Regions from separate parts of the Homo sapiens genome. Here all the other regions are reported to be linked to region 1. The links are microRNA targets in miRTarBase. Many come from high-throughput screens and were not tested one by one. Region 1 holds a microRNA gene; each other region holds the end of a gene's coding sequence.

Region 1 (3,162 bases):
CAGAGGATGTTAATGCCTTCCAAGCAAATTGTATCAAATGCATTTGAAAGGCAAAACTCATTGTTTAGTGTCTGAGAATAGCCTCTGAGTGCTGGGATGCCACGGTTGCTGTGGCAACGGCTCTTTGTTTTAGGGAACCACAAACATATCATTCTATAAACTGCAGGGCCCAAGCTGCAGGTTTCACCTTCCTGAGGGTCGCCACCCGGGAGGCAGAGGCACCAGGATGGACGTGGGAACTACCTCCGCTCTTCCTTTCTCACAGGTGCCCAGGATGTCTTTAGCTTTTGTAATGTTTGGGGCTGGGGGAGGTGGAGGTCATGAGTGTGGGGAGAGGGCAGACAGTGGATATGTGCTCCTCCTGCCCCGAGGAGCTGGGCTCTACAGGGCATCGTGGGGTCCCTTCCTCTTAGCAATCAATGCCATGTTCCACTGTGGCCCCAGACTCCAGCACCAAGCAAAGCAGCCCCCACGACCCTTAGGACAATGAGGGGTGAAAATTGCCACCCATCAGTTTTCAAGTGGTCAGTGTGGAGGAAAACAGGGACCCGCAGGTGGCCAGAACGTGGAGGAGATACACCAGGGAGCCGGAAGTAATGTGGTCCAGGGACCCATCTCTCATTCCACGTAGCTCACGGACCTGTGTGCCCCTGACTCTGGTCTGTGGGGGGCCCCTCTGTATGGGGGCCCCCTATTCCCTCCATCTGAGGGTCTCTCTTCCCTCCATCCAGCCACTTGGTCGTTTGCACCCACTGTGTCCACCAAGCGCTTCTAGGGAAGGGTCTTGTCCTTTTTTCTCCCCGTCCCGCCGAGCCTCCACCTCCAAGCCTGCATCCTACTTGTCTTTCCTCTTCATGCGTGTGGGGTTTTTTTCCCCTCCTTTCCACTGTGCACCCCGTCTCCTCTGTAAACTTGAAGGTAGGGAACTCTGTCTTCACTCATGAGTACCTTCCAACACGAGCTCTCAGGAGTAAAGACAGAGTTCCCTACCTTCAATGTGGATCTGCAAAAAGATCTGAAAAGCGAATGCCTTCTCCGTAGCTCGTTGGCAGTAGTACTTGACCTGAACTGATTTGAGGCTATTTATAGTTTTTATTTATCCTACTTAGCATGATTATTCATCCGTGCCCTGAAGGACTCCTCCCGCAATTGGCAATGGGACACTGCCCAGACCCACTGGCGGTGTGACGTAACAGGCCACACACGCATCATCCTACTGCTGCAGAAGCAGGCAGCGTGCACATGCCAAGGCACCTCTGGCTCTGGTGTTCAGGGATGTCGTCGTGGGGCTGTATTTGTTGAATGAACAAGAGTTCTTAATCCAAGAATAATGCTGGGTTTACCTTTCAAGTAGTTCAAAGGCTTCTTTCAAGACGGTGTTGTTATGGAGGATGGGATGCGTCTTGCCTTAAATATTAATAGAAATCGTATATGGAAATCTCAGACGGCTTCAAAGAGTCTCTCAGTCAAATTCAGATGGGGACTGTGCCTCTTTCCTGGCTGTCCCCTCCCAGCCCCCATGTGGCCACAGTTTGCTGTAAAACCCTGCAGGGCCCCTGAGTACCAGGTGTGTCTGGCCCGTGTTGCCTTTCAACATGAACTCTTTCTTGACTTTCTTCTCCATCAGGGATATGGTCATATTTATAATATTTGTCTCGACCTCACTTTCCTTTCTCTCCCTGCCCTGCTTGTTCAGCAAATGTGTTGGGGAATCCGCAGGGTCCCAGGCACAGCCTCTCCCTCCAGGGGCTCACAGGCTCCATGGCACACAGATGTGGCCTCAGCACGTGAAGGAGGCTCAGTGCCAGGCTATGTGGCTCATCTCAGAAGGTGGTGTGGCCCCAGGTTCTGTGGTTGCCCTTGCTCTGCTCTCTGCTCCCCACCCCCGCCCATCCTGCCCTGCTCCTATGGTGCCAGTGATCTTCGGGGCTGGTGGCTTGCAGAGCGCTCCCTGGACCTCCTCTTGGACCCTCAGACTCATCTCCTGCAGAGCCTGCCACCAGGCGAGCCCAGACCCCTGACTCCCCTTTGAAGTGTGTCCCTGCAAATGCATATGTTGAAGTATCACCCTGAGGATCTCAGAGTGTGACCTTGTTTAGAGGTAGGGTCTTTACAGAAGTCATCAGCTGAAAATGAGGTCATTAGATTGGGCCCTAATCCAGTAGGACTGATATTCTTATAAAAAGAGGAAATGGGACCGGGTGCAGTGGCTCATGCTTATAATCCCAGCACTTTGGGAGGCTGAGGCGGATGGATCACCTGAAGTCAGGAGTTCGAGACCAGCCTGGCCAACATGGTGAAACCCCGTCTCTACTAAAAATACAAAGATTAGCCGGGCGTGGTGGCGGGTGCCTGTAGTCCCAGCTACTTGGGTGGCTGAGGCAGGAGAATCACTTGAATCTGTGTGGGCGGAGGCTGCAGTGAGCCGAGATCGTGCCACTGCACTCCAGCCTGGGCGACACAGCAAGACTCCATCTCAAATAAATAAATGAATGAATGAATGAATGAAATGTGGCCACAGCCATGCACTCGGAGCAAACCTCACACAAAGATGAAGGCAGAGCTCTGGGTGATGCTTCTGTCAGTCAAGGAATGCCAAAGATTGCCTACAGGCCACTGGGAGCTGGAGAGACAGGCCTGGAACAGAGTCTCCCTGCAGTCCCCAGTGTGAACCCCCCCACTGCCAACACCTTGACCTCAGACTTCCAACCTCCAGAACCATGAGACAATTCATCCCTGTGGTTTCAGTCACCCAGGCTGTGGTTACAGGAGCTCCAGTGAACATACCCCATCTTTCCTGGCCAGCTGGCCCTTCCTCCTGGGCACCCCATCTCAGTTATGGCCCAGGAACTGAAAACCCAAAAACCTTCCTAGATCTTTCCTGGCGCTCACCTGCCCTTTTCCCATCTGTCCAGAACCAGCCCCTTCCACTTTTTCTATTTCCTGAATCTGCCCCTCCCTCCCCACTGGTTGGGCTCTCATTTTGGCCCAGATGGACTGCAGGAGGGGACGGCTCTGGGTCTCACCCCGGGTTCATTTCTCTCAGTCCCCTGGAACGAAGTGGAGCACACTCTGCCTGGGTGAGCCTCCAGCACTCAGATTCTGCTGCTGTGCTCATCCTCAAACCTCTTCCATAGTGCCCTGGGCCACACTCTCTTTATA
Region 2 (3,162 bases), not on the chromosome of region 1:
TGCTACAATGTTAAGAGAAACCAGTGGGCATTGGTGGCTCCACTGCCCCATTCTTTTTTATCCTTTGACCTAATGGTAATTCGAGACTATCTCTATGCTCTCAACAGTAAGCGCATGTTCTGTTATGATCCTAGCCACAATATGTGGCTGAAGTGCGTTTCTCTGAAGCGCAATGACTTTCAGGAAGCCTGCGTCTTCAATGAGGAGATCTATTGTATCTGTGATATCCCAGTCATGAAGGTCTACAACCCAGTTAGGGCAGAATGGAGGCAAATGAATAATATTCCCTTGGTCTCAGAGACCAACAACTACAGAATTATCAAGCATGGCCAAAAATTGTTGCTCATCACCTCTCGCACCCCACAGTGGAAAAAGAACCGGGTGACTGTGTATGAATATGATATTAGGGGAGACCAATGGATTAATATAGGTACCACATTAGGCCTCTTGCAGTTTGATTCTAACTTTTTTTGCCTCTCTGCTCGTGTTTATCCTTCCTGCCTTGAACCTGGTCAGAGTTTCCTCACTGAAGAAGAAGAAATACCAAGTGAGTCTAGCACTGAATGGGACTTAGGTGGATTCAGTGAGCCAGACTCTGAGTCAGGAAGTTCAAGTTCTCTTTCTGATGATGATTTTTGGGTGCGTGTAGCGCCTCAGTGAAATGCACAGGATCAACAGGGTTTGTTGTAACTAGATTGAAACACTAAGTTGTTTTTACTGTTTTGGAAAATATCTTAAATATCCTTTTTGTTCCTAAAGGAGAGGAAAAGTTGATTAACTTCTGGTTTGGTTTAGAAAAAGTAATGTTTGAAATACGAAGGTAATTTAATGTTACAAATTTTAACACTCAAATCAACCTTTTAATAATTTTCTGTGCTAAGGGTCCAGTATTTATTTGATTATTTAGTATGTTTATGTTTCATGACACTAATTTAGTCTTTTGATACATTTTACATTCTGTTTACTGCCACAAGCACTGTGGCAATAACTTTTGAATTTTAATTTTTATAATAGAAAAATGATTAGGAATTGCTAGATAGTGTTTTGAAAGCATATCTTTTTCTTCAGAACAATGTAGACTTCCAAAATGGTTAACCTAAGGGGTCTTTACAAAATGTGTTATAAGTTAAACATAATTTGGGAAGTTTTACTTTTGTTTTCTTCTATGAAGAAAAAAATGCAGGCTGGGCGCGGTGGCTCACGCCTGTAATCCTAGCACTTTGGGAGGCCGAGGCAGGTGGATCACCTGAGGTCAGTTCAAGACCAGCCTGGCCAACATGGTGAAACCCCGTCTCTACTAAAAATACAAAAATTAGCTGGGCGTGGTGGCATGCGCCTGTAATCCCAGCTACCCAGGAGGCTGAGGCAGGAGAATTGCTGAAACCCGGGAGTCAGAGGCTGCAGAGAGCCGAGACTGGGCCACTGCACTCCAGCCTGGATGACAGAGTGAGACTCCGTCTCAAAAAAAAAAAAAAAAAAAAAAGGAAAAAAAAAAAAGAAAAAAAACCATATGTGTATTAGGGTGACTGAGTGGTGACTTCATTTATAATAATACAGAGAATAGCTATAAGCTCATTGACAGTAAAAACAACAAACCAGGATTCTACTGTTTGAAAAGAAGTTTCGTTTTAATTTTGGAATTTAGAATGTGTATTTGCAAAGTCACCAATTTTCATCTAAAAGGTTATATTCTAGTTGTGTCACCAAATCATCAAAAAACCTTAAAAAAGAAGTAACTTGCTTTGTAGGTTTGTATTGTTGATCTAAACCTGATACATGCTTCATTTAATCAGGAATAATCCTTTTTTTTCTGCTGGACATGTATAAATTTCACTGGATTGTATAAATTTTTATCTATTGCCTTAAACATTTACATGATTCTCAATATGTTTTAGCTGTACAGTTTTGGTGTTCATCTTAGAGGATTCTTCAGCAGAAGTGATATTTCTTTACTGTTTTGTGAGGTAATACTGATTTTGAAAATATATATAAGCTAAAAACAGTATTTCGTTGATATCAGTAGTCATTGTGTTAACTATAAAGTCAAGTGCCAGCAAAGAACTTTAAAACTGTAAAGCTGTGTATAGAACTGTTTTGTGTAGCATGGAAATATTCTGTCAGCTTTTTAAAGTCACTAAATGTTCTTGATTATCAGCTTGAAGGTATTTTTGTATTACAAGTTGACAGTTGCTGGGTGTAGTGGCTCATGCCTGTAATCCTAGCAACTCGGGGCTGAGGTGGGAGGATTGCTTCAGCCCAGGAGTTTGAGACCAGCCTGGGCAACATAGCAAAACCCCATCTCTACAAAAATAAAAAATATGTCTGGGCATGGTGGCCCAAGTCTGAGTCCCAGTTACTTGGGAGGATCACTTGAATGTAGGATCACTTGAGTCTAGGAGTTCGGGGCTGCAGCTATCATCTGCAGCTATAATCATAGCTCACTGCAGCTATGATCATGTCTCAGCACTCCAGCTTTGGCAACAGAACGAGATCCCATCTCTTAGAAAAACAAAGTTGATAGTTAAAGAACATAAGTGGATGATGGCATTTGAGGCCACTAGTGAAAGTATGTTTTCTCTAAAATATTTCTCTAATAGTGATATAAATGGCTATTTTATTATGATGTTTGTATGTGTTTTGTATTTCTCTGTAAACCATGCTCCAGTCTTTGTTTTTCTGTTACCATAATGTAAGAGAAGGTCCTGGAACAGAGACTAAATCCCACGAAACTGACATTGTTAAACACACTAAAACAGAAGTACTTACCTCTTGAAGATTTAATATATAATGGTTGACATGATACATGTACATGATGAATGACCAGATGCTTATGGTCTACATTTTCCTTTATCCTGTTAGTATTACCTTCCTTAATCTTTGTTCATTAACATGCTAATTCCTCTTCAGTGTTTATTTTCTAGTGACAGAATGCTAACATTTCTTACACCCTGGCAGAAGGGAGAGAAATGTGTTTTGGGGTGGGTAACTAAATTTTTGAGTGAAATATCATAAGATGAGAATGGAAAGAGGGAGACACAAAGAGTTATAACAAAAAAACAATGGTTTTTTTAGCCATTTGACTGGCTCTTTAAATAGTCTACAAGACATTCACGTTTAACATCACTTTTAGTGAAATAAAATGTGCCATACTAGTATGTGCTT
Region 3 (3,162 bases), not on the chromosome of region 1:
ATAAAGACAGTCAGAGTGTGTGTGTGTGTGTGTATGTGAGTGTGAGTGTGTGTGTGATGTACATTAAAAGTTAGGGCTGGGCACAGTGGCTCACGCCTGTAATCCAAGCACTCATTCTGGTAAGGCAACACACTGTCTTCTGCAATAAAGACTGTGTGTGTGTGTGTGTGTGTGTGTGTGTGTGTGTGTGTCTCACGCCTATAAGGCAACACACTGTCTTCTGCAATAAAGACTCTGTGTGTGTGTATGTGTGTGTATGTGTGTCTGTCTCACGCCTGTAATCCTAGCACTCATTCTGGGTAAGGCAACACACTGTCTTCTGAAATAGTGTGTGTGTGTGTGTGTGTGTGTGTGTGTGTGTGTGTGTGTGTGTGTGTGTGTGTGTTGTATATTAAAAGTTAGGGCCAGGTGCGGTGGATCACACCTGTAATCCCAGCACTTTGGGAGGCCAATGTGGGCGGATCATCTGAGGTCAGGAGTTCGAGACTAGCCTGGCCAACATGGTGAAACTCTGCCTCTACTAAAAATACAAAAAAATAAGCCGGGTGTGGCGGCAACTGTAATCCCAGCTACTCAGGAGGCCGAGGCAGGAGAATGGCTTGAACCTGGGAGGCAGAAGTTGCAGTGAGCCGAGATCATGCCACTGCACTCCAGCCTGGGCGACAGAGCAAGACTCAGTCTCAAAATAAATAAATAAATAAAATAAAATAAAATAAAAGTTAAATAGAACACCTGAGGGATGTCTTTAAGATCCTTTAAGGGATTTAAGATATACAAAGCATCTACCATCCACTGACAGGGCAAAATGAGAAACAAGGGAAATAAAAAGCACACCTGACTCACTTAACATAGTAAAGTTAGGCTCCCAGGAAGTTTAAGTTGCCAAATACTGCTTAACTGGTATTAAAAGAATCACAATTACTATGTCATTATCCATGAAGAATTCAGAAAAATAATTAAATGCACACCAAGATAATCAATACAAAACCCAGAAAAGGTCTAACTAATCAACTATTGTTAGGCTGGTGCAAAAGTAATTGCGGTTTTTGCCATTGAAAGTAATGGAAAAACCACAATTACTTTTGCACCAACCCATTACAAACAAGTTTTAACAATCACAAGACTAATGTTTTAGTGACGGCTCCTAAAACTTCAGGGAAAAAAAAAGTGCATTTCTGACTGGCAATAGTTTGCAAAATAATCGTAATGAAACTACTTATTTCTTTATTTTAAAAGTTAATAAAAGGAAACCTCTCAATTTTTAGGAAGAATTCAATTACAATAAAATCATGATGTCTTATGATCTGGCATCTTATAATCTGTGTCTCAGAAAGAAGGGCAATTTACAGCATCAGATGAATACTGGAGTTTAGGTCAGACTTAAGTTATCTGAAAAGAACATAAGGCATTTACAGTTTTTAGCAGGGAAAAATAATCAAATCTCTTTTTTTAAAAAAAACCTTCTTAGTATCTTGGTTAAATGTCCAAAAAGCTGTATTATTTTTAGTTTTAAACCAGTAGGCACTATTCGAAACTGAGAATTCAGGATGTTATCAAATACAAATTTTTAAAAGCTTGACCATTAAAGCATAAATTGCCTAATGAGACACATGTAATCATAAAAACTAACGCCAGGATCATTTACTTGTGATTGGATATATGCCATTTATTTTTCTGGCTTCTTTCTAATGTGTAATTCCTGCTGAATTGAGTGAGCATGTCAGATTTCTATCTTTATCTTAGTGTGTGTAAAAGTTCTCAACCTAGACAAGGACAAATTTTAGAATTTTCCAATGAACATCATTCACTATGTATGATGCTGTTTTGTTAAACTAGCTGTTTGGAAAACAATAAAGATTTCATTTGTTTTGCGTTAGCCACAGAGAGTGGACTTGTTTAGAATGTAAAAGTATTTATCTCAAATACTAAAATCAAACTCAAGAAAAATCAAACAATGCTGGAGCTGAGAAAAATAATGGCTATATATCTGGTTGAACATGTTGAAAGAAAAGTGAAAACACAGCCAGGCATGGTGGTGCGCACCTGTAATCCCAGCTACTTGGGAGGCTGAGACAGGAGAATTGCTTGAATCTAGGAGGCAGAGGTTGCAGTGAGCCAAGATCAACCACTGCACTACACAGCCTGGGTGACACAGACTCCTTCACGCACACACAAAAAAGTGAAAACAAACTTGGAAGTCTAGAATGAAGAATTACATCTAATGCAGTAATATTCTTCCCACCTTTCCATATTAAATGTAAGAAGCACCAGCAAAAAATACTAAAGACAGAGAAATGACCTGGCAAAATGATTCAAATACCACAGAGCGTGAGAATATTCCTCAGTAAAGCTCAAGATATTATGAAGTAGCTAGCAGAAGAAATGGCAGGGGTAGCGGAAGTAAAAATTCTAACCATATGACAGACTCTAACAGTAAGTCATAAATTCTAAAGGTTTAATTAGTAAATTCATTATTTCCTCCAAAATATACTGTCATTCTTCTCTTAACAATGAATGTTTGACACAAATCCAATTTTGATGTTAAAAGTCAACATACATAGATAGGTCCCTCATGTTGACAGAGCACAGAATTGGAAAAAAAAACTGCAAATGAGAAATAGGGGTATTTCTAAATCTTCTGTATTCCTAAAATATCACACTGCGCCCTTGCTTCAGCCTCCCTGATAGACTGGTTTGGGTGTGCAATATTAATGCAGGAATACGTGGAATACCAGCACAAAGCCGGGGAGGGAGACTAGCAAACTCTCGCCATCAATTATTTCTCAACTACATTTAGTATTCTTCGCAGTTTTAGATTTTTTTTTCCTTTAAGCGAAAACCACTCCACTGAAAAAAATTCCAAACTTGTTTTTTAAAAATTGCAGGAATTTCTTCGTATTTTATCAACAAAAATACCAGAAATTAAAGAGCTGACAGAAATTCAAGCAGATCCAAATTCAACCATCCATTTTTCATACTTCTCCAAGTCTGCAGCAGAGACAGACTTAGCAATTTTCTTTAGGGCCAATTCAAAGTCTCCTTTGGTAACAGGCATCTGAAGTTCCTCTTTAGAAAGTGCACGGATTTCTTCTGGACTTAAGCCATTGATACGCCGTCTCATTGCCATTAAAGAGGCATCCCTAAAAATATACCAAAATCAGT
Region 4 (3,162 bases), not on the chromosome of region 1:
GTCTCGAACTCCTGGCCTCAACTAATCCTCCCACCTTAACCTCCCAAAGCATTGGGATTATAGGTGTGAGCCACCACGCCTGCCCCACAATTTTTTAAAGACACATTTCTTCCCACTTTCAAGGCCTGAGAGGTTTGGTAGCAGCTGGCCAACCAGAGCAGTCCCAGTCTCTCCTCCATGAGTATGACTGTGAAATCATGCCATGACAGGTGGTTGGCTGCCACTGAAATAGAACTGCACCTTGGAAGAGTTGTAGGTTAAAAAGCCACTTTTGGATCCTGGAAATTAAACCACCTACATCCCTGGGGAGGAAGGGCAAAGGGCACTCTGAGTTCCGCACATGGCAGGAAGTTCTTCAGCATTTGTCATTCCCGCCACAGCATGCAAACAACTCCATTCGCTTCTTTGTACAATGTAGAATTTGCGGTGTGATTTGTGCATGGTTTAAGGAACTTTGGTATTTTCCCCCCACATAGACTGTGAGTCGACACTTCAGGAACATACCTGTGAATGAAAAAGAGACCCTTGCCTACTTCATCTACATGGTGAAGAGTAACAAGAGTAGACTGGACCAGAAATCGGAGGGTGGCAAGCAGCTTGAGTGAGGATGAAGCACATCTTAAAGGAATGAAGTGTAATGCTTGATGCACAGGTGATATCTACTACATTTAAGCCCATAAAGACTGTTAAATATTATTGTAAATAAAAAAGTTTGAATGATGAATACTGTAAATCTTTTTGGTCAGGAGGATTATATTCTCATGATTCAGCATGTGTATAGAAAGACTTTCTTTTACGATAACTCTGGACTAAAAAAATCAGGATCATTAAAAGAATTAAAAACTATGTATTTCAGCATTCAACAAAGCATTAAATCAATTCTACTGGAAATGTGGGATAAGAAATATTTTGGTAATCACCTTATCCACCAGGCTGCCACGTGTGAGCTGTAGCTTGGAATAGCAGCAAGGTGCAATTGGCCATGGAAGTGCATGAGCAGACCCACATCTGGACTTGCATGCTGCCCGCTGGCGACATAGATATCCCGCCCGCTTTGTTGCAAGCTTTGTCATTTATCAGCAGATCAGTTTGACACTGGTCCCCCTCACTCACCCTGTGCCTTGTACACAGTAGGCACTCAATCAGTAGGTATTGGCTAATTGAGCTGTCACTAATAGTGCCAGCCTTGTAACATCCGCTTCACACCTCTCATGACTGAGACCTCTGCCATTTCTGTTGCTCACCACTTAACTGCTAGAATGTGGAGGAAATCCTGATGCACCAACAAGGAAGTTTCTGATCAGATAAGGATTTCAGGACAGTTGCATGTGCAAAACTATTCGTTGAGGTTCCAGAAACACTGATATAGAGACCCTCACAGAAGATACGGTCCCTTATGCACCCCACTATGCTTCACTCTTTGGGGTGCAGTTAGATATTATGACTTCAGCCAAGCTTCTTGGTAATAAATGCATTGACACACTGACATATTTAGTAGGTTGGGGCAAGTATTTTTAGAAGTTTTCATCCTAAGTTCACAACCACCATGCAAGCTGCCAGGGGCCATGTGATTCCTGCCCAGAAGTTCAGCTTAGGATTGAAAGTCTGGCTGGCCTTGACTCCCTGGGCTCTGGTCATCAGCAAATCATGAGTTTGGGCAACAAAGGTCAATTCCATCTGATGCTCATTTTTGTGAACAATTTGCCTCCCTCTTAGGGAGAAAGATTGCTAAAATAATTTTTGAAAATTACCTAATTTTTTTGTTGTTCAAAACGTTGAACTCCTCAATCTAATTATATCAGAGCCAAAGTATCCTGTGAAAACAAAGCTTTATATCCAAAAATGTGCTTTTGCAAAATTCTTTAATCTGTGTAATGGAGGGCAGAGGGTATGGGGTAGGAGGGTGGGAGAAAGAAAAGAAAAGAATTTGGATTCTAATTTATGACCATCTTGACATATGGTCAAAGGTGTCATTTTCCTACTCAGTTTCAATTCTGAGTTAATTTCTTAAGCCTTAAATAATAAGAACAATGGACAGCCTGGCCTGGCAGAGAGTTTCACAGATGACTTAATCTGAGCACCATCACAGAGAAGTCAGGACTAAACCCCCTACTGAGCAGGGCGGCGGAGTGTCCAAAGGTCTCAGTTCTGTGGAGCAGAGTACCACGCTTTCTGTGGAATGGGGACAGGGTCACCACGCTCACTAAAATGCAGTATGTTCCATTGCAGCAAAGCTTTCGCCTGTGTTCAAAATGCATGTCTAGCAGATTGCAGCCTTTTAAATTAAATATATATAAATGGTTGTATATAGAATATACTCTGGACTGTGAGGGCATCCTATTTTGGTATGCCTCCTGGCTGTGGATGGCATGTCCAGTGCTCTGTGAGTGTTTTCAGTCATTCACATTCACTATGTGTTTAGAGATTCTCTCCCTGCTTACAGCTGAAGGATGTTGATACAGGCATCAAGAAGGCTGAGGGGCAGATGGGGCCTGCAGGTTAAGGCATTGTTAACTTGCTCCATGGAAATGTCCATATCTTAATGAGTAAAAAAGTGTATTTTTCTGATACGTAAACCAGAATTGTGGGCGTGTAGGTCACATCACTATTTCTTTAGCAGCAAATCTGTTTTCCCAGTTGAGAGAGACAATAGCTTCTGCACAAGAATATATGATGGTAGGATCCATCTGTTCAATTGTGTCTGAAAGAATCTTTATTCCAAAGCGAAACCTGGGGAAATGTTTTACCTTCAGCCAGATGCTGTGTGTGTACTTGGGTCCCTTGTCTTTCCTCTAAGGAGAGGTGCTTGTGGAAAGTGGAGGTTGTGGGCATCTTTTCAACCTTTTCAATCTGACCTTTCAACAGGTCAGGTGAGAGAAAAGACAAAGCTATTTGAACCTATGTTTTTCTTATGTCCAGAAATCTGTTCTTTCATCAAACCACTAAACCACTCGCCTTAGCCTCTTCTGCAGTTTCTGGTGGCTCTATCTGTGGGCAAGGGACTCCTGCCTGTGAGAAGTGGCCAGGCCCTCCAGAGCAACGGGGTCTGGCTTCAGGGAGCAGTGGGGTGTGGGGAAAGCAATGTTCATCTTGGCTGCTCCATTTTTATACCATCCATCAAGGACTCTTGCGCTTCTCTCCACCTGTGACGTAGCAGCATTG

What was found. The annotated mature microRNA hsa-miR-3664-5p reads AACUCUGUCUUCACUCAUGAGU and lies in region 1 at 925-946, shown strand. An mRNA with a match to its seed (bases 2 to 7 or 8) in the 3' UTR can be bound and repressed. Matches are read on the target gene's strand: a 7mer-m8 pairs with bases 2 to 8, a 7mer-A1 pairs with bases 2 to 7 and ends in A, and an 8mer does both.
Region 2: miRTarBase lists KBTBD6 as a target of hsa-miR-3664-5p. Seed matches in the 3' UTR shown: 7mer-m8 at 1,442-1,448.
Region 3: the mRNA of KATNAL1 is a reported target of hsa-miR-3664-5p. Seed matches in the 3' UTR shown: 7mer-m8 at 232-238.
Region 4: miRTarBase lists SAP30L as a target of hsa-miR-3664-5p. Seed matches in the 3' UTR shown: 7mer-A1 at 2,157-2,163.

The regions. Positions count from the first base shown.
Region 1 is chr11:70,870,111-70,873,272 of GRCh38, reverse strand. MIR3664 (microRNA 3664) reads left to right here and starts at 905; the gene lies at 905-1,003. All of the region lies in intron 11 of SHANK2 (SH3 and multiple ankyrin repeat domains 2), which reads left to right.
Region 2 is chr13:41,127,985-41,131,146 of GRCh38, reverse strand. KBTBD6 (kelch repeat and BTB domain containing 6) reads left to right here. Exons shown (of 1, transcript NM_152903.5): 1 at 1-3,162. The coding sequence ends at 660. Among named protein-coding and RNA genes, the nearest start is that of KBTBD6, 3.2 kb to the left of the region's middle.
Region 3 is chr13:30,205,599-30,208,760 of GRCh38, forward strand. It overlaps KATNAL1 (katanin catalytic subunit A1 like 1), which reads right to left. Exons shown (of 11, transcript NM_032116.5): 11 at 1-3,140. The coding sequence ends at 2,942. Among named protein-coding and RNA genes, the nearest start is that of LINC00385, 53 kb to the left of the region's middle.
Region 4 is chr5:154,455,424-154,458,585 of GRCh38, forward strand. SAP30L (SAP30 like) reads left to right here. Exons shown (of 4, transcript NM_024632.6): 4 at 477-3,162. The coding sequence ends at 605. Among named protein-coding and RNA genes, the nearest start is that of SAP30L, 11 kb to the left of the region's middle.